2 linked regions of the Homo sapiens genome follow. The protein of the gene in region 2 purifies or fractionates together with the protein of the main gene of each other region. This does not show direct contact. Each region holds a gene or a part of one and is shown on either strand. Other genes may lie near its edges.

What was found.
Region 1: the proteins of NLRP3 (region 2) and USP50 purify together in Homo sapiens (affinity purification with western blotting; 3 studies listed by BioGRID). This does not show direct contact.

What each region holds. Positions count from the first base shown.
Region 1 is NC_000015.10:50,541,402-50,552,726, reverse strand, and holds the start of USP50 (ubiquitin carboxyl-terminal hydrolase 50), read left to right. Parts: upstream 1-6,060; 5' UTR 6,061-6,201; coding exon 6,202-6,254; intron 6,255-7,712; exon of another isoform or gene 7,713-7,928; coding exon of another isoform or gene 7,929-7,945; coding exon 7,946-8,140; intron 8,141-8,933; coding exon 8,934-9,129; intron 9,130-11,325. UniProt on the Homo sapiens protein: Deubiquitinating enzyme that removes conjugated ubiquitin from specific proteins to regulate different cellular processes. Regulates the inflammasome signaling pathway by deubiquitinating 'Lys-63'-linked polyubiquitination of the PYCARD/ASC adapter protein.
Region 2 is NC_000001.11:247,438,542-247,448,922, reverse strand, and holds the end of NLRP3 (NACHT, LRR and PYD domains-containing protein 3), read right to left. Parts: intron 9,643-10,381; exon of another isoform or gene 9,390-9,642; intron 4,952-9,389; coding exon 4,781-4,951; intron 4,273-4,780; coding exon 4,102-4,272; intron 840-4,101; exon of another isoform or gene 696-839; intron 519-695; coding exon 419-518; 3' UTR 106-418; downstream 1-105. UniProt on the Homo sapiens protein: Sensor component of the NLRP3 inflammasome, which mediates inflammasome activation in response to defects in membrane integrity, leading to secretion of inflammatory cytokines IL1B and IL18 and pyroptosis.

The sequences.
Region 1 (11,325 bases), on a different chromosome or scaffold from region 2:
TATTTATTTTTGTTTGTTTGTTATTTTAGAGATGAGGTCTCACTGTGTTACCCAGGCTGGTCTTGAACTGACTTCAAGCAATCCTCAGTGCCTCAGCCTCACAAAGTGCTGGGATTACCAGTGCTAGCCACTGCATCTGGTCACAAATGTTTTTTGAAAAATGTAAACTAGAATGAGATTTTTTAAAATATTGAAAGTGATTCAGGGGAAGATAGTAAAAGCACATTAAAGGTTTCGTTTCTATTTGGGAAAAATTATGGTTATTTTTGACATTGAAAGGTAATTCTAAATACGGGTAACCCTTGCTATCTTCACTTTCACTATGTGAGCTCAGGAACTACATAGATTAACGTACATTTTCACACAGACTCGTGGCATCCAGAGTTTAGAAACCAAATAGGTTGGGATAAAACAGTATTCTTTGCTATTCAAACCTTAGACCCAAATAGATTAAGGTAACAGGTTACTTTTATTTTTTTTTTAATATTTAAAGGAAATAAATAGAATATAGAAACAATACACTTCTTGGCCATTAGAAGGAAATAAAAAAGTTGGAGGGGAAGGAGAGGATTTTTACAAAGTAATCCACTAGGGCCAGGAGTGGTGGCTTACGCCTATAATCCCAGCTACTTGGGAGGCTGAGGCAGTAGGATAATTTGAGCCTGGGAGTTCAGGATGTGCCTAACAACATGGCAAGATGCTGTCTCAAAAACACACACACACTAACAGGAAGACCAGGCCCCAGGTCCCTTTCATCCTCATTCATTCATAATTTAGTCTAAAATCCATTAGGTTTCAGACCAATCATAGGTGTTCATGTTGGGAGGCAACAGTGACCTGGTGGGGGGTGTCAGCAAAGCAGGGTGAGGATAGTGCTTGTGTGTTGTGTAAAGAGGGGAGTGGGGTTGATGTCAGCAGCGACAGGAGATTAGTTATATGCAGAGGGGTTGATCAAATAAGGAAATACATTGAGGACAATGGGAAGTGCCTCTCTGTTGGAGATGGGGTTGTAAATATGTAAAAGGGAGGAAACTAGAATAAATCCTGAAATGTAGGTTTGGAATTGGAATTACTGGCATGAATTCATGGTTCCCAAAATATCAAGATGTATTCAGTATGGTAGTAATACTGAAAAAAAAATGTAGAGAGATATACCTATGGATGTGGATGTATGTATGCATAGAGGACCTGGAAGCAGCAACGCTGTAATAACATGAGTATACCCAGCTCCCAGATCTTGGTTTCTAAATACCATTCTTCACTAAAAGGAACCAGGGCTCGGAGAAACACCTGACTTCAGGATTGGGGCAGGAATGGTACTCTAGAAGATCTTGCTGTGCCAAACAAAGGAAGTGCTCAAAGAACAATAAGGACATGTCAAATGGATACAGAAGACATCTTGAAGGGCTTCCTGCAGGCTAATCTTGAGACCATTTGAACATCTAAAATAAATCATGGCCAGGTGCGGTGGCTCACACCTATAATCCCAGCACTTTAAGAGGGCAAAGTGGTTGAGCTTGAGACCAAGAGCTCAAGACCAGCCGGGGCAACATAGTGAAACCCCCGTCTCTACAACAAAATTTAAAAATAGCTGGGCTTCGTGGCATGTGATGTAGTCCCAACTACTCAGGAGGCTGAGGCAGAAGGATTGCTTGATCCCAAGAAATTGAGGCTGCAGTGAGCCGAGATCATGCCATTGCACTCCAGTGAGCAACAAAGCGAGACCCTGTCTCAAAAAACACACACACAAAAAAACATGAAAATATCAGATGCGCACCCATAAAGGATGAGTTCATGTCCTTTGCAGGGACATGGATGAAGCTGGAAACCATCATTCTCAGCAAACAGAAGAACAGAAAACCAAATACCACATGTTCTCACTCATAAGCAGGAGTTGAACAATGAGAACACATGGACACAGGGAGGAGAACATCACACACCGGGGCCTGTCAGGGAGTGGGGAGCTAGAGGAAGGATAGCATGGGTGCAGCAAACCACCATGGCACACATATACCTATGTAACCTGCACGTTCTGCACATGTATCCCAGAACTTAAAGTATAATTTAAAAATAAATAAATAAAATATCAGATGTAATCCATTGAACAAAACGGGAATTTGTGAGTCCATGCTGATTAAAATAAAAGAATAAATGGAGACAGCCAGGTGCGGTGGCTCACGCCTGTAATCCCAACACTTTGGGAGGCCAAGGTGGATTGCTTCGAGCTCAGGAGTTCAAGACCAGCGTGGGCAACGTGGCAAAACCCTGTCTCTACAAAAATTACAAAAATTATCCAGGCATTGGTGGCGTGCACCTGTAGTCCCAGCTACACAGGAGGCTGAAGCTGGAGAATCGCTTAAGCCTGGGAAGTGGAGGTTGCAGGAAGCTGAGATTGTGCCACTGCACTCCAACCTGGGGGACAGTGAGACCCTGTCACAAAAAAAAAAAAAAGAAATGGAGAAACTTCTCTTTATAGTCGAGTACCAACAGATGAATGTAGTCAGAATAATGATATTAGAAAATCACCACTTGGCAATCACCATAGCAAAAATCCAGCCAAGAAACATCAATTACTAAAACTAATGTATGAAAGTTTGATGAGGAACAGACCATTTACACAGTCTCAAAGTCCTCCCTGCAAAATGCTTCCTGATGATTACAAAAGGAAAAACTACATTGGAGAAACCTGGGAGACCCTACCTCATTCAAGTTATCACAGTTAATCACAGTTCACATAACCAGTGCTGGGACAAATCAAAATTGTATAACATTTAATACAATGCAATAAGAATATAGCTTCACTTCTGTGATATTCTTCATAAAAATGCATAATGTGAATCTAATGAGGAAACATCAGAGAACATAGTTCCCCTAATGTTCTTTTATGGCAATTTTTTTTTTCTGATCTGGGATTCAGTCCGGATAGATGTAGCTCCTGAATAGAAATTAAGGGATATTCTTCACAATAATTGGTCAGTAATCTTCAAAAGTCAAGTTCATGAAAATCAAGGAAATACATAGAACCGTTTCAGGTTGAAGGAGCCTAAAAGGGACATGAAAACTAAATGCAATGTGAGATCCCAGCTAAACTATATCTGGTTTTCCTTTTTGAGTTTTGTTTTGTTTTGTTTTGAGACAGTCTTGTTCTATTGCCCAGGCTAGAGGGCAGTGGCATGATCTTGACTCACTGCAATTTCCGCCTCCCAGGTTCAAGGGATTCTCGTGCCTCAGATTCCAGAGTAGCTAGGATTACAGGCCCGTGCCACCATGCCCAGCTATTCTTTTTGTATTTTTAGTAGAGACAGGGTTTCGCCATGTTGGCCAGGCTGGTCTCTAACTCCTGGCCTCAAGTGATCTACCCGCCTCAGCCTCCCAAAACGCTGGGATTGCAAGTGTAAGCCACCACTCCTGGCTTTTGGGGTTCTTTTTGAGACAGGGTCTCTGTCACCCAGGCTGGAGTGCAATGGCACAATCACAGCTCACTGCAAGCATGACGTCCTGGGCTCAAGTGATCCTTCCACCTTGGCTTCCTGAGTAGCTGGAACTACAGTCATACACCACCATGCCCGGCTAATTATTATTATTATTTTTTTTGGTAGACGGAGGGTGGAGAGTGGGGTGGGGGGGAATGGGGGTGGGGGTGGGGGATATTCTCACTGTGTTGCCCAAACTGGTCTTGAATTCCTGGACTCAAGCGATTCTCCTACCTCGGCCTCCCCAAGTGCTGGGATTACAGGCATGAGCCACCACACCCAGCCCCATGTCTGGTTTTAAACTAAGCTTAGTAGTTTGTTATAGAGCACAGAATATTAACACATAGATAATCTAACTCATGAACATAGATACAAAACCCTTGAACAAAAAGATTAACAACTAGAACCCAACAATTCACGAAAATAATAACTACAGCTCAAACAAAATATACCTGAGGAATAGAAGATTAATATGTGACCATCATTGATAATGAACAACAATAACAGAATAAGAAAGAAAATCTCATGATTACCTCAATAAATACAGAGAAATCTGGTCATACTCACTATCCATTCATGATTACAACTCTTCAATACTATGTCTGCAAACATCATACTTAATGGTGAATTATCCAAAGCTTTCTCTCTGAGTTAAGCAATTAGCTATCTCCACTTCTATTCACTATTTTACTATGTTCACAATTTTTCACTATTTTCACTATTTTACTGGCAGTCCTCACTAGTAAAGAAGAAGTAAGACTCAGAAAAAAATTAAACTGATTTTGTTGCAGACAACTTGAATGTGTTTATAAAAAATCCAAAGAACCTATGTAAAAATTAGACTTAAGTAAGTCAAGTTAGGCCATACTCAGGGGCTCACATCTGTAATCCTAGCACTTTGGGAGGGTGAGGTGGGAGGATTGCTTGAGCCCATGAGTTCGAGACCAGCCTGGGCAACATAGCGAGACCCTGTCTCTATTTAAATAAAAATTAAAAAATTAAAGAGTAAGTCAGGTTAGAAAGGTTCCTGGATAGACAACCAACATATGACAAATAATTGTATTTTTACCTACCAGCATCAAACACAAAATGAAACTTTTAAAAGACCCTATTGATTAGGAGAAAATGAAGGACTTGGGAGAGCCTCACTGACAAATAGAGCAAGTTTACAGGATTTAAGTCCTGCAGAACCACCACTGAGGTGACTTGGAGAGATACCTCTGTAAATACATCGCAAATATCAAATACCTGCAAGAGAGGACAGCTCTACTTGCCAGGATTCCTTATCCAGGTGTCAAAGAATGAATATTCTAAATATCTTCGTGTAGCCTGAGCATATATGTGGGTTTTTTTTAACCATTTAGACATAAGTTGGGGTGCATACTATGGATTCCTCAACACCTTGCTTTTTTTGACTTACCAGTCATATATCTGGAGAGAAATCCATTTTAGCAAAAAATATGTGTAATATATTCTTTCTTTTTAATTTTTTTTTTCTTTTTTTGAGACCGAGTCTTCGCTTTGTTGCCCAGGCTGGAGTGCAGTGGCGCGATCTCGGCTCACGGCAAGCTCCGCCTCCCGGGTTCACGTCATTCTTCTGCCTCAGTTTCCCGAGTAGCTGGGACTACAGGCGCCCGCCACCACGCCCAGTTAATTGTATTTTTAGTAGAGATGGGGTTTCACCGTGTTAGCCAGGATGGTCTCTGTCTCCTGACCTCGTGATCCTCCCGCCTCAGCCTCCCAAAGTGCTGGGATTACAGGCGTGAGCCGATGCGCCCGGCCTCTTTTTAATTTTTTAAACTTGCAGAAGAGTTGCAAGAATAGTGCTCTTTAGTGGGCCTTCACTCGGAATCACCAACTGCTGGCGTGTGGGTGCACTGGCTTTATAGTATGTGCTTTATCAGTCCCCTTCCTTCCTGTCCTCCTGTCCCTGTGTGCTTCCTGAACCGTTTGAAAATAGGTTGCATATATCATGCCCCTGTGCCCCGAAAAACTTCAGTGTGTATTTTCTAAGAACAAGGGCATCCCCTTGCATAAACACAGTACAATCTTATCAAATTCAGAAGATTCAACATTAATAGAAAAAACTATCTGCATATTATCCATATTCAAATTTCATCAATCGTTCCCATAATGTTCTTTTATGGCAATTTTTTTTTTCTGATCCGGTATTCAGTCCGGATAGATCTAGCTCCTGAATAGAAGTGGAAATCCTCGCTCCCCGGGGTGAGGAAATTCCCTCAGGGCTCCTAGGTGTGGTGTAGTCGCTGGGAAGGGGGAATGAGTGCCCAGAGCAGGCAGGGTTGCCGTAGTGTCCACTAACTCAGTGGCGGTAAATTTTTGTGCACATGTTAAGTGTGTGTGTGTGTATGTGTAATATATATATACACAAGAGAAACTGAGTGATGGAAGAAGGAAGAGAGGTTATATGTGTAGTTCATTCTCTGGAGCCTAATCTTTCTAAAACATTTCAGACAACCCAGTAACAGTGTCTCATGGCAACATGATAGAATCTTGAAGGTGAATGGAAAGGATTATGATGTACGGAAAATCCAAGTTGGAGTGGTGCCTGATACAGGTGAAAATCAGTTCGCAGCTACTGGAAGAGAGAGGAGCATATCAATTGTTTAAAACAAAAAGCCAGCGTTAACAGGCTCAGAGAAATGAAGTTGAAAGGAATAGATGTAGCTCCTGAATAGAAGCAAAAGTCCAACGTGGTTCCATTAAAATGACTTCTCAGCCGTCTCTCCCTGCAGATGACTTCGATATCTACCACGTCCTGTGAGCCTTGATCTACTACAGCTTTCTAGATTAGCCCAGTGGTGGGAAAGTCAAGCTCAGAGGAGTCAGGGGACACACACTGCATTCAGGAGGGTTCTCCCAGGTGTGACCCATGGAAGGTCCCCGGAAAGGAAGGAAGATTGTACCTAATATCTTGGCAATAAATACATGTCCTTCCTAAAGGGTGACAGTCTAGGACCTCCTGTGGTATCAGTGAGTAAAAGTGAAAATGACCATGCTTATAACAGTGAACACTTTTCAAACTGGCATAACTGTACTTAAAAGTATGTATGAGGTAAGGTCACTGTCTCATGGAGCCCCAACTTTAGATACAATATATGGAAAGAAAAATCCGAGAGGACATAGATACCAGGCTGCCTGGCACAATACAAAAAATTGTAAGAGGAAGCTCTGTGCAGGGAGAGGAGGTCCCGTTTGGAACCCTCAGTGTTCTCTCTGTGCAGGCAGGTCTGGGCAATTCACATGAACACTCTAATCCTGTAGCTTACTGGGAAGGACATCCTAGATCAATCACTTAAAAAAATTTTTCAGTTGTCATTTAGACGAACCTGTGTCAAGTAGCTTGCATGATACCTGCATAATCCTCACAACCATCCTATCAGGCAGATGATATTATTCCTATTTTATAGATGAGAAACGGACATAGAATCCCAGATCCTATAATTAATAAACGGCATAGTTGGGATTTAAACTAAGATCTATATTTTTACAAAGTCTGTGCTCTTTCTCCTCTCCGTGTATATGTGTGTGTGTGTGTTTATATGTATATAGCTATATACATACACATATACACATATGTGTGCTCTTAAGATATATATATTCATGCTCTTAATGTGCATATATTATGCCTTCAATATATATGCCATACATACATATATATACAAATATATACATATATATCACATATATAGAGACAATCTTAATATATATAGACAATCTTAATATATGTAAATCCAAATATCTTAATGGATAGGTATGTTGGGAGAGAGGGAGGGAGGTAAACAGATAGGTGGATATTCCTTTTTTTACATACCACCACACACCCCATGAGTAAATGACTACATCATTTAAACCTGACATCTCATCTGTAAAATGGGATGTAAAAATAATCGTTCCTGCCTTACACAATTGTTGAAAGATTTAATGGGAAAATGCATGTTAAGTACTTAAATAGTGCCAGGCTCACTACCTGATAGCTATTGTTTTATTAACTATTAATAATAATAATAATAATTTAATTACTTGCCCAGCAAGTTGTCAGTTGTCTTGCTTTAGTTTTAGAAGGAAATTTTTATCTGTCTTATTTGGCTTCAGGTACTTGTTCACAGTTCTGGTCTAAGTTATGTAATTTTGTTTTTAATTTAATTTATTTATGTAATAGAGACAAGATCTCACTATGTTACCCTGGCTGGTCTCAAACTCCTGGCCTCAAGCAATCCTCCCACCTCGGCCTCCCAAAGGGCTGGGATTACAGGTGTGAGCCACTATGCTCTGCCATAATACAATTTTAGACTCCAAGTTCCAATACTTCCTGTCCTTGGTAGGGAATGTGTTTGGAGGAAGTCTTATTAAGAACTCTTCTTTATTTCATAATATTAAGAGAAGCTTATTGTCATTTGTACATATTTTGTTCTCTCAAAACCCTTTCTTCCCATGTGGCACCAACACAGTGCAGAGTGCACAGATTACTATGATACCCTTCCAGTTAAGGAGGCTGATGGGAACCAGCCCCATTTTCAGGGTGTCACTGGCTTGTGGAACTTGGGCAACACATGCTGCGTGAATGCCATCTCACAGTGTCTCTGCAGCATCTTGCCGCTGGTGGAATACTTTCTCACCGGGAAGTATATCACCGCTCTGCAAAAGTAAGACCATTTGCATTCCCTGCAGCCCAGCCCCCACCCCCACTTCCCCACAGATGAGGTTAGAGAAGGAACTCTGGAATCCCTATTAAGAGATAAACAAACAAGTCAGTAGAGGTTGTAGCTTCCCAGATAACACGCTAGAGTAAGTAAAAGTGGGAAGGGCAACCAAGAAATGAATGCAGCTCCTTTTTTTTTTATTTTTTATTTTTTTTTATTGTTGTTGTTGAGCCAGGGTCTCGTTCTGTTGCCCAGGCTGGAGTGCAGTGGTGCGATCTTGGCTCCCTGCAACCTCTGTTCCTCGGGTTCAAGTGACCCTCCTGCCTCAGCCTCCTGAGTAGCTGGGATTACAGGCACGCGCCACCATGCCTGGCTAATTTTTTTTGTATTTTTGTAATTTTTTGTATTTTTAGTAGAGACGGGGTTTCACCATGTTGGCCAGGCTGGTCTTGAGCTCCTGGCCTCAAGTGATCCACCCCTCCCAACCTACCACCTCGGCCCCCCAAAGTGCTGGCATTACAGGTGTGAGCCACTGAGCCTGGCATCCTTTTTTTTCTTTTAGACAGTCTTGTTCTGTCACCCAAGCTGGGGTGAAGTAGTGGTATGATCACAGCTCACTGCAGCCTCGACCTTCTGGGGGCTCAAGCTATCCTCCTGCATTGGCCTCCCAAAGTGCTGGGGTTACAGGCATGAGACACCACGTTCTTCCATTTTGAGACTAATTTCCTAGGCTTGGGTGATTAGGTGCCTTCTTTTCATTAAATCAGCCAGAAACATATCCCTTTCTTCTTCCAAGCGATTGCAGTGAAGTTGCCACTGCTTTTGCCTATCTGATGACAGACATGTGGCTGGGAGACTCAGACTGTGTCTCACCAGAAATATTCTGGTCAGCTCTTGGCAACCTCTACCCAGCATTTACGAAAAAGATGCAACAAGATGCTCAGGAATTCTTGATTTGTGTCCTAAATGAACTTCATGAAGCTCTAAAAAAGGTAAGTAGAGTTAATGACCTTGAAATAGGATAGTCCTGAACCTTTATCAGCAGCTTCCATTTTTCATTCTTTTACTTGTTCAATTAATATTGTCTACTTTGTGCCAAGCACTGTGCTAGGTGTCCCATGGAGAACATCCAAGTTAGTATTTGAATGTGTAGCTGTATTTACCAAACTTACTTGTCATCAGAATCATCTGGGAAGATTTTACAACACAGATTTTAAGGCAAATACTCCAAGGGTAATTAATTAGAATGTCTTTTGGGAAAGCTTACTTGGCATTTCCAGTGGTCAGCTAGGCTTTGGAAACACTAATCTACTTTTCTTTGTAAATAGAGGCTGAATGGACTAGTTTTTAAAAGTGCAAAATATATTCCTCATGAGAAATAACATATAGAACTTTATAGCTTAAATTTTCTTGGGACCTACAAATCCATGAAAATATTAAGCTTGATATTAGATTAAGCAACAGATCTACGCACTACAAAGTTTCATCCTCATACCAAACATACCTAACCTGAGTTCATCACCGAATTAGGACATACATTTCATTAAACATGAAATCATCAGTTACTCTAGAGGTTTTGCCTTTATTTACAAAACTCACTGCCCTTAGCCTTGGTCTGAGACCCACATTCTCTGAAAATGTGTCCTTGACTTTATGCAACATCCTTCTGCTAACATTACCTCACTGCACCTCTAATACCCAGGGAATGGTTAGCATAAAGGTTGCAAACTATAGCTATTAATTGTTCTCATTGGCAGATCTCAGTTCCATTTTTCATTTAGAGTAATAAAAAAGTACTCATGGCCAGGCGCTGTGGTTCGCGTCTGTAATCCTAGCACTTTAGGAGGCTGAGGTGGGTGGATCACTTGAGGTCAGGAGTTCAAGACCATCCTGGCTAACACGGTGAAACCCCGTCTCTACTAAAAATACAAAAATCAGCCAGGCGTGGTGGCAGGAGCCTGCAGTCCCAGCTACTCGGGTGGCTGAGGCACAAGAATCGCTTAAACTCAGGAGGCGGAGGTTGCAGTGAGCCGAGATCATGCCACTGCACTCCAGCCTGGACGACAGAGCAAGACTCCGTCTCCAAGAAAAAAAAAAAAAAAAAAAAATGAAAAGGAAAAAAAAAAACAAAAACATATTCATGGCAGCACTTTTTTAAGAAAAGAGGTGAGTGGGCAGTAAAAATCACTTATGTCCTCTTCTACAGCCAATCTGAAACAAACAGCATTCTGTTTCCCAAGATCAAAGTAGGAATTAGGGGAATTAAGTTACTGTCAGGGTGGAAGACTTTGGCAGCAGAGTGTGATGAAAGGAGCAAGCAAAAATGGAATGCTGAGCACAGCCCCAAATTAGAGCCAGCTGTGGAGCTAACACATCTTCAAAATGTATATTCCACTGAGGCTCTTAAATCACTGAAAATTCAGGGTGTGCCCCAGAAATGCTGTTGCTGAGTATGAGCTGGATCCAAACCAGGCCACAAGGCTAGTTCCACCAGGCTGCCTTAGAAATTTAAGATTTGCTCTCTTATCTTTTTTTTTTTTTTTTAATTAACCTTGTAGAGACAGGATTTTGTTATGTTTCCCAATCTGATCTCAAACTCCTCCCGCCTCAGCCTCCCAAAGCACGACGATTACAGATGTTAGCCACCATGCCTGGCCAAGATTTGCTCTTTTAAAAAAGTGTTTTCTAGAAGTTAAAGGAGTAAAGGCTGCAGAATGTAACCTGAAGGGACTGGAGACAGGAAAGATTGGATTTCTTAATATTTTACCTTTAGATCTGCTTGAGTGAACTAATGCTAATTTAGCTTACTTACCCCCTTCCAGAAAAAACTAGCTCCCAAGGCTGGTAGCTTATGGGGCCATGGGTATATGTTTTACCAGAGTTAGACTGTCATCATTCCTCTGTTTCATCTAACGGGAAAATATCTGAATTATCAGAAATCACACATGATATATATACTTTCAAGGATATCTTACTCTATTGTCTGAATCCAAAACTAAGTGGTTTCTGGTAGCAATGTCTCATTCTGATAGAAAAAAAAATCAGTCATTTTATTGAAAACTTTTCCTTTTTTTTTGGAAACATGGTCTCACTCTGTCACCCAGGCTGGAGTGCAGTAGTGCTAACACGGCTCACTGCAGTCTCAAACTCCTAGGCTCAACTGATCCTCCAACCTCAACCTCCCAAGT
Region 2 (10,381 bases):
GTTATGGTCAGTTAATAGAAAGATAGCGGGAATGATGATATGAGCAAAAGTAAACAGAACAAAGAAGAAAAAAGATAGGAAAAAGAAAGTTAGACAGAGAAGAGAAAAATAAAGAAAGTGCTTTATTGAATGAGCTAATTACATGAGGTCACCAAGAGGAACATCCTCTAACTGAGGCGCTGTGATGACAACAACACCCGATGCTGTCATTGTCCTGGTGTCTTCCTCACCCTGGCGTAAAGGAGATGCCCAAGCTCTGCACAGGAAGGCATCGTCGGCAAGCTCTCTTCTCCGACACTCCACCGGAAGGATCACAGAGCTGTGGTCTTGGCCTGGATGGATCGCAGCTCTCTCCACCTGAGGGCCCCCAGCTGGAGGGACCGGAGAACACTGGCGTCTGGCAGCCCCGTTTCCACTCCTACCAAGAAGGCTCAAAGACGACGGTCAGCTCAGGCTTTTCTTCTTGAAGTGTTTCTAACGCACTTTTTGTCTCATAATTGAAATACATTTCAGACAACCTGTAAAAGCAAATAGAAAGCCTGGGTTGCACTCTTCAGATAACTCTGTCAGAGTCGTTAACCTTAAAAGTCTCATCTCTTCATTTCCCTAAACTCCACACACTTCTAAAATGTAAAAAAAAAAAAAAAAAAAAAAGAGGGACCACAACTCCCAGAGTGCTCCGCGTCCTCGCCGCCGTCGCCGCCGCCGAGACCAAGATGGCCGCGAGACTCCGCACCTTCTTCAAGAATGCCTGGGCCAAGGAGCCGGTGCTCGTCGTGTCCTTCGTCACTGGGAGCCTCAGACCCCCAGGACCCCAGCCTGGAGTGGCTGAAGAAACTGTGAGCACCTCCAATGACAGAGGAGGCCCCTCCCACGGCTCCCAATAAAAATGTGGGGAAAAAAAAAAAAAAGCTCTAAGTGCCCAATGTGGTTCCTGTTATATTTTTAACTATCTAGTTGGGAAAATGTTAAGCATACATAAAAGTATAGAAAATAGTATAATGAACCCCCTGTGTCCATTACCCAAGTTCGACAATTAAACAGGTCATGTCAACTTGTTTCTTCTATTGCCCACCCACTCCTCCCACCCATGGATTATTTTAAATACTGCATTTAATGCATCTATCAATAATTCACTTTGTGACACTAAAATATAATTACAATGTCACTATCACACCAAAATCGTTTAACAATAATTTCTTAGTATCACTGTATGTCCAGTCAGCATTTACGCTTCCTCAACTGTCTTGTAAATTTTTTTACCTTATGTTCATTTAGTCACTAACCTGATCAATTCTACACATTGCATTTGCCCAGGATGCCTCTCACATCTTCGATGTAAGTTCTTCCTCCTCTTTAATAAAGTTTCCCTTGCAACTTAACTAATAAATCCACCCATTTGTCCTGCACCATTTATAACCATCTCAATTTGGTGGTGTTATATACTGAATGTTTGTCTTCCTTAACAATTCCCATGATGAAGCCCGAACCCCTAATGTACGGTACTTAAAGGTGAGGCCCTTGGGAAGTAGTTAGAGTTAGATGAAGTTGTGAGGGTGGGGCCCTCAGTATGGGGTGAGTGCCCTTACAGGAGAGATATCAGAGAGTTTGTTCTTTCTCCCCTGTCTTCTCTCCCTTGCCTCCCCTCCCTCCATGCAATCACATAACAAGAAGGTAGCCATCTGCAAATCAGGAAGAGGACTCTCGCCAGCAACCAAATTCATCAGAGACTTGATTTTGGACTTTCTAGCCTCCAGTATTGTGAGATAATAAATCTGTGTTTGAGTCACACAGTCTAAAGCAGCTTGTTATCGCAGCCTGAGAAAACGGGTTGATTGCATTCATGGATTCTTCAATCTATTTTGAGCCTGTCCCTCAGCCTGGGTCCAGAATGTCCCTCAGGGCTAGGTCAGTGATGCTACATGTAGCAGTGTCCCCAGCTTTGACCTGACCAATCCTTTGTTTGTTCCCCCATCTCTCTTAGCTCTGGGAATATTGGCTTGTCCTGCAGCAAATGTGCTCCATTATGTTGGCACAAGGATGCAAGGCTGATTCAAACTTGTATTTATTCAAACCTGCATTCCAACAAGTTCTCAGCCTTGAGATCATTAATATGGACAGAAGTCCCTGGACTAATGGAATTTATATTTTGGGAGCAGAGATAGATAATAAATAAACAAGAAAATGACATAGCACATAAGATGTGCTACACTGCAGAGGAGAATGAGAAGAGAAGAAAAAGTGCTTCTATTTTCAGTAGAATAGTCAAAGACAGCCTCGCAGAGAAGACCTTTAAGCAGAGAATTTAGGAAGGTACAGGGAATAATGCAGGTGGATACTGAAGGGGAGAGAGTTCTAGGCCAGAAGAAAAGCAAGTGCAAAAATCCAGAGATGACAGTGTTCTTGCAAAACAGCAAGGAGATCACTGTACTGGGGCAGAATAAGCAAGGGTTGGGAGAAGCGGAATCTTCGGAAGCAGGAGAGGCTGGATTATGTGGGGCATGGAAGCCACCATGAGTTTGTTGCTCTGATTATGAAAGTGATAAGAAGACGATGTTGACAAGAGTGATATGATGCGAGTTACGTTTTAGCTGAATCCCTTGTCTGCTAAAATCAGAATAACAGATGCAGGGTGACCTGTCAGAATGCCACCATGACAATCCAGACACCAGGTGATGGTGGCTTGAGCCAAGGAAGAAGCCGTGAAGCTGGCCTGAAGTGGTCAGGGAGTGGCCAAGCTGGGAAGGCAGAGCTCACAGGATGTGCTGACACATTGGACATGATTATAAGGAAAAAGAGACAGTGACGACAGAACCAGAAATGTTTTGGCCCGAGCAACTTGGAGGAAGTGACCATCGACTGAAATGGGGAAGAATCAGGTTTCGGGTAGAAGAGAGTAGCAAGGGTGTGGATCTAGATGTGACGTTTGAGAGGTTTATTAAACCTTCAAGAAGAAAGATCAGCCAAGCACGGAGACACAGAATTTATGGACATATAATCTGGAGGCCACAGCACACATATCATGAAGCCAGAAGACCAGATAATTTAAATGAGGGAGAAAGTGTAGGGAAGAAAAATTAGCCCAGCGACTAAGCTCTGAGGATTCAACACATAAGGGTCAGGATGATGAAGAAGAGGCCAGAAAGGAGACTGAGTAGAAGGATCTGATGAAATAGGAGAAAACCCAGGAGAGCATGTTGGCCTTAAAGCCAAGCAGTGAAAACGTCTTCAGGGAAAAGTGCAATCATCACGGCTGACAGAACCGTGGGACTCGCCAGGAAGCTCTTGCTAGAGAGGAGACGACTACCTCAGTAGTATCACAGAGGTGGGCTGGCAATATCCTGACACACTGTCGAATTTCGTGTAATTTCCCATCTTGCTATTCCTGGAGCACTCTTTTCCCATTTAGAAATCCTCAGAAACCGCCAGGCACGGAGGCTCACACCTGTAATCCCAGCACTTGGGGAGGCCGAGGCAGGCAGATCACGAGGTCAGGAGATGGAGACCATCCTGGCTAACACAGTGAAACCCCAACTCTACTAAAAATACAAAAAATTAGCCGGGTGTGGTGGCAGGCGCCTGTGGTCCCAGCTACTTGGGAGGCCGAGGCAGGAGAATGGCGTGAACCCGGGAGGCGGAGCTTGCAGTGAGCCGAGATCATGCCACTGCACTCCAGCCTGGGCGACAGAGCAAGACTCTGTCTCAAGGAAAAAAAAAATAAATCCTCAGAAACAAAACAACAAGATCCCCACTATGTAAAGACCCTTCCAATTTGGATGACCCATAGACGAGTTCTACGAAGTTCGGTTCCTTGTGTAGAACAGAATCCTCCTTGGCCATGATCGCATGAGGGCTTGTGTTTCTTTGGGGAATGTGGGTGAAATCCAGCTTAGCCTTGGTGATTCTAACCATCTCAGTGAAGTGGAATGTGTAGTTTAACCCCATATTCTCTATTTTAAAATATCCACCACAACTGACCCAGGCCCAACCTAATCTTGAGTGGCTGCAAATGAAGCGAGAGCCATCCTGGATTTTGATAACAGTCAACGTTTCCTGAGAACTCAGAGTCCCACCACGGGCATCTCTGCAGAGCACACTCACCCCAGGTTCTGCAGGAGGCAGCTCTGCTGTTTCAGCACTTCACAGAACATCATGACCCCCAGGTCGCCCAGGTCATTGTTGCCCAGGCTCAGCTTTCGCAGGCTCTGGCTGGAGGTCAGAAGTGTGGAAAGATCCCAGCAGCAGTGTGACGTGAGGTTGCAGTTGTCTAATCTGCAAAAAGGGGGTGATTTAAAGAAAATGTCCCCTTAACCATCCCCCTAGCTCCCCAAGATTTTAGCATCTTAGCCTGTCTTGTTTCAGGTGGAAAAAAAAAAAGCACAGGAGCACAGGACTAACTAGCTTCAAGCAGCCTTGTATGCTGGTAATTATTCTTCTCTCTCTTTTTCAAATCCACTGCATTGCACAGATCAAATTAGTAACAGTGGTTTGTTCATTGATTTACCAAATTCTGTGCCTTTCCCTACATTTCCATAAAATGTAAGTGTCATACTGCCCTCCTTGTTTTGTGGTACAGAAAACTGTGATGGTAAGGACTCAAGTTCCTACATCTATATCATCTGGAAGGACTCCTCCCAGTCCCATGATCCTGTAACAAGGCAAACACTAAGAAGACACCTCACTTCTAAGATACAGATTATCTTGTGGCCACTCTGCCTAAACGTCCCTCCACCCTTGGCCACCATGTGTTCTCATTGCTGTAATAAACCAAAGGACTTACTCCAACACCTGAAGCTTGCAGTCGGGGTGCAAGAGTCCCTCACAGAGTAGTTTGATCCCCTTGTCTCCGAGAGTGTTGCCTCGCAGGTAAAGGTGCGTGAGATTCTGATTAGTGCTGAGTACCGAGGACAAAGCTGAACAACAGACTGACGTAAGGCCAGAATTCACCAACCTGTAGAAGGACAGGGAGAAGAGTCCTCAGTACCCAGCTGTTCCCCAACATTGTGCAGCTGCTTTGACTCAGTGCCTCGTCCTCTCTCAGCAGCTGCAGCCTTCAGCTCAGAGAGCAGGAGCCAGCATCTCAGATATGATCTGGGGAGAGCAAGACCTGCTGTCTCTGGCTGTCACAGGAGACACAAATGATGTCTCAGCAGATGCTTTGCTGTATGAGTCCGACAGAAAGAGCCAAGGCAAACTGAGCCAGTTACCCCATACTCCTCCTCCTCCTCACACAGCTTTCCTCCGGCCAGGAGTGCTCCTCAGCACCACTTCTTCCAGAAACACATCCCAGTGGTTATCCTCAACTAATAATCCCCGTAACACTGCAGACACCCACACTGCAGGGGCCTTTTTTTTTTTTTTTAAGAGAGACAGGAAAAAAAAATCCTCCTCATGGGAAGTCGGTGCTGATTTAAACATCAAAGACAACAGGTGAACGTCCATTGTGACCTTCTAAGCTGTAGCTAGGGCTGTGACAGGAACACGGCGGGGCCCTTAGCAATTGCCACCTCCCGCCTTCCTGCGCCCCCAAATGCCCCTTTCACATCTTTCTCGCTGCAGCCCTCAACCACGTTGGAGAGGTGGGAGGATCGCTTGAGTCCAGGAAGTCGAGGCTGCAGTGAGCCATGATTGCGCTGCCACACTCTAGCCTGGGTGACAGAGTGAGACCCTGCCTAAATAAATAAATAAATAAGGCCAGGTGCAGTGGCTTATGCCTGTAATCCCAGCACTTTGGGAGGTCCAGCACTTTGGGAGGGTGGATCACGAGGTCAGGAGTTCAAAACCAGCCTGGCCAACATGGTGAAAGCCCATCTCTACTAAAAATATAAAAATTAGTTAGGGTGGTGGTGGGCACCTGTAATCCCAGCTACTTGGGAGGCTGAGGCAGGAGAATTGCTTGAACCTGGGAGGCAGAGGTTGCAGTGAGCCGAGATTGCCACTGCACTTCAACCTGGGCAACAAAGTGAGACTCTGTCTCAAAAATAAATAAATAAATAGAAAAAGCCAGGCTCTTGCTCAGTCACCCAGGCCAAGTGCACAGCTCACTGCAGTCTTAAACTCCTGGGCTCAGACAATCCACCCACCTTGGCCTCCCAAAGTGCTGGGATTACAGGCATGAGCCACTGTGCCTGACCCAGAGACCAGTCTTATTTGATTATTATATCAACCTGGCAAGGAAGGAGTGCAGCTAAAACTATTACATACATTTTACATATTAGAAATCTAAGGCTTATAAAAATTACATGTTTCTCTCAAGGCCACAGAGCAGGTGTGTGGTGGGGAGGGATCCAGACCTGGACTTTCCACCTTTTAGTCTCATCTTCTCCCCACTGCCCTTTCTGTCCACCTCTCTCTTCCTTCTGCACAGCAAAAGGCCTTTTAGAGCATAAAACCCCAAAAATGCATCAATCTCGATGGAATTAAGAGTTTTGATGTACTATTCTTGAGTCAAATTAAGCCCATTCTATCACCCAGGAAGAGCATAAGAGCTCTAAAATCACTGGTGGCGTAATTCCTAGGAGCACAGATGCTTCTATTCCATGAAGCCAGGAATAGCGCAGGTGATTGCCTCCTTCCTGCCAGAGTCCTTGGCAATGGCATGTTTTTTAAGCTCTTTGGTGTCTACGAGGCAGGAAAAATAGAAATACAGAAAAAGTGTATTCAGACAGTAAAGCATGAACAGATGACCAGCAGGAAAAAGTGATTATCCATCCACTGGTTTCTATCTTCCCAATTAAGGAAGAGTCAAACTGAAAAGACACAGTAAGTAAGACTAATAGGCAAATGAAGCCCAAGAGAGACAGACAAAAACAAAGCAAGTTTTGAGTGGCTTCTACTAAGCTCTCATCCCCGGTAAGAATTCTATCAGAGGGTTGTTGTTAATTAACATGCAGAAGGGATTAGTAGCATTCCTGGCAAAGGCCAGGGACATTCTAGTAGAATGGGGATGGTCTTCAAAGAGGAAAAGAGAAAATATTTTTTAAATTATGTAATTAAAGTTATGCAGGCTTTACCACTATTTCCAAAAAGGAGTAGAATGGATTATTCAACAGATGTTTGGGGAGCACTACACAGTAGTAGTAGAAATTGCAACAGACGGTGCAGTTTTGTTAAGAAAACGTCATATCCAAATTGTGAAAATGCTGGTAACTATTAAGCAACGGTTACACTGAACACATAATAAAATGTTTAAAGAATCAAACAACCATGTCCCACCAACCAATCCTTGGATTAGAGGAATGTGATTGACATCTCGATTTCAACCAATCCACCTAACTGAGCTCTACATTTACCAAGCACGGATATCTTGCCATGTACTGTATTAAGTTAATTGGTTGGGGATTTTTATTTATTAACTACCTGCCTATGTCACAAAACTGTCTCATAATGAAAACTGAATCCCAGTGCTTTGGGAGGCCAAGGTGGGAGGACCACTTGAGGCCAGGAGTTTGAGACCAGCCTGGGCAACATAGCAAGACCCTGTCTCTACATAAAAAATTTTAAACATTTTAAACATTACCCAGGCATGGTAGTACACACCTGTAGTCCTAGCTAGTCAGAAGGCTGAGGCAGGAAGATTGCTTGAGCCCAGGAGAGTTCAAGGCTACAGTGAGCTATGATCCTACCACTGCACTCCAGTCTGAGCCACAGAGCAAAACCCTGTCTTAAAAAAAGAAAAGAAAAGAAAGGAAAATAAGGAAAGGAAAGGGGAAAGGGAAAGGGGGGGGGGAGGGGAAGGGAAGGGAGAAAGAGAAAGAAAGAAAGAGAGAGAGAGAGAAAGAAAGAAAGAAAGAGAAAAAGAAAAAGAGAGAAAGAAAGGAGGAGGAGGAAGAAGGAAGGAAGGAAGGAAGGAATCTGAAGAAGAAGATCAAACATTTTTTGAGTATTTATTGTGTGCTTGACATGGATGACGACTTTAAACAGGGTTATCTCATTGAATGATCACAACCTCAAGATGGGAATGTTAGTTTTATCCCTGCTTTTAAATGGACAAAATGAGGATCACAGTAATTAAAAAATAAGTAGGAGCTTCTTAGATGGATAGTAGAAAGTGGGAAAGTGGGGGTAACCTTCCAGGCAAAAGGAAAAGAGTAGCAAGAATAAGGAAGATTAAAAGAACCACCAAGATGTTTCAAAACTAATTCATAGCTGGGCACAGTGATGTCCACCTATAGTCCCAGCTACTTGGGCGGCTGAGACGGGAGGATTGCTTGAGCCCAGGAGTGCAGATGAGATCAGGCACTCTGGGTGGTATGGCTGTAGATGAACCCAGGAATTCAAATTCAGCCTGAGCATCATAGCAAGTCCCCATCTCTAAAACAGCAAAACAAAACTCATCCAATATGACTCAAAATGGAGTGCAAGGTATGGCAGGAGAGAGGGCAGTATCAGGGACAGCCTTGTGTGCCAAGCTAAGATGTCACTCTGACTGCAGAGAAGAACTTTTGAAGATTTTTGAACAAAGGGTCAATATTTTCAAATTTGCATCTTAAAAAGTTCCCTCTGGTGTAGTGATGAGTGGTAGAGGGAACCGAAAGCAGAGCATTTAGGACCGTCCCCCGTTTACTCACTCAGCAGCCTCCTGGAAAGCCCCACTATTCAATGAGGCAGGAGGAAGAGGGCAGGAGCAGGTCAGAGAACGGGGGTGGAAGGTGGGGTATGATAATTAAACCAATGTTGCAAATGCTCAGCATGTGTGACCCTTGAGCAGTATTGAGACAGGCAGTACACAATATGCAGCCAGAGATGAGGACCCAAAGTTCGAGAGAAAAAAATGTAGCTATACCTAACACATAGGCTATACCTAACACATAGGCTATACCTAACACGTAGGCTATACCTAACCCATAGGCTATACCTAACACACAGGCTATGCCTAACCCATAGGCTATACCTAACACACAGCCACATGTATGGCTGTACCTAACACATAAAATGCATAAAAGTCTCGACTGATTAATGCCACTTATAGATACCTATCTCAAAGCAAATACACATGCATAAAACTATATATACAAATGTGCTTTTTGCAGAGTTGTTTGTAATAGTGGAAAAGAACAGTTATCCCAAAATGCATGATTTGATTAAATAAATTATGGTAAAGCACACTATGGGATATTATGCCCCAATCGATAGATCTACACAAATCAGCATGGAAATTTATCCATGATAAATGAAAAAAGGATATCACAGAAAAATATTTATATTATGGTTCTAGTTTCAATAGATAGGGTGTTATGGATTGAATTGTTTCCTCTAAGACTTTATATGTGGAAGTCCTAGGCCCCAGTACTTCAGATTGTGACCTTATTTGGTGATACGGTTACTGAAAATGTAATTAGTTAAGATCAGGTCGTTACAAATCTAACATGACTTGTGTTCTTTCACAGGGAAACTTGGGACATGGAGAAAGACACACACAGACACAGGGAAGACACCACGTAGAGATAAAGGCAATGGTGTGGCAGAGGCATCTACAGGTCAAGGAATGGCAAAATGTGTCAGCAAGATGACATTCCACCAGAAGCCAAAGAGAAGCATGAACAGATTCCCCACAGCCCTCAGAAGGACCCAGCCTGCTAGCATCTTAATCTCACACTTCTGGCCTCCAGAACTGAGGGACAATAAATTTCTGTTGTTTAAGCTGCTCTGTTTGTGATACTTTATTACAGTAGCTCTAACAGACTAGGCATTTAAAATACTACATAACAATGTATTACAAATGCAACATGAAAATCACATAGGTCTTCATTCACATTACTGATATAAATACCACCCAGATCAGCATATACAGGAAATCCATTTGTCCATAATTAGCAACCAATATATGTTCACAAAGCTCTGATACTCCCTTGGATGGATTGATGGATGGATGGATGGATGGATGGATGGATGGATGGATGGATTGACGGATGGAAAATAGAGGGATGGATGATGGATGGATGGATGGATGGACAGATGAATGGATTATATAACAATCTATTGTATTAAAAAAAGTCTGGATGGTTGTTCATCAGACTATTGTAAATGGCTCTCTCAGAAGAGGGCTGAGAAGGAGCTTTCACTTTCCACTTTGTCTGTACTATGATATGTTTACACCAAGCATGTGTTACTTTTCTAATAAAAAGTTTGTGAATGATATCTGGGTTTGAGACCTACTGTTGTTGAAATTGAGAGGTATATGAGAATTCTCAGGGAGTTTAGAAATATTTAGTAACAACAACAACAAAAAAGGTAAACCAGGCGGGTGTGTGGCTCACGCCTGTAATCCCAACACTTTGGGAGGCCAAGGCAGGCAGATCACCTGAGGTCAGAAATTCGAGACCAGCCTGGCAAACATGGTGAAACCCCGTATCTACTAAAAATACAAAAATTAGCCAGG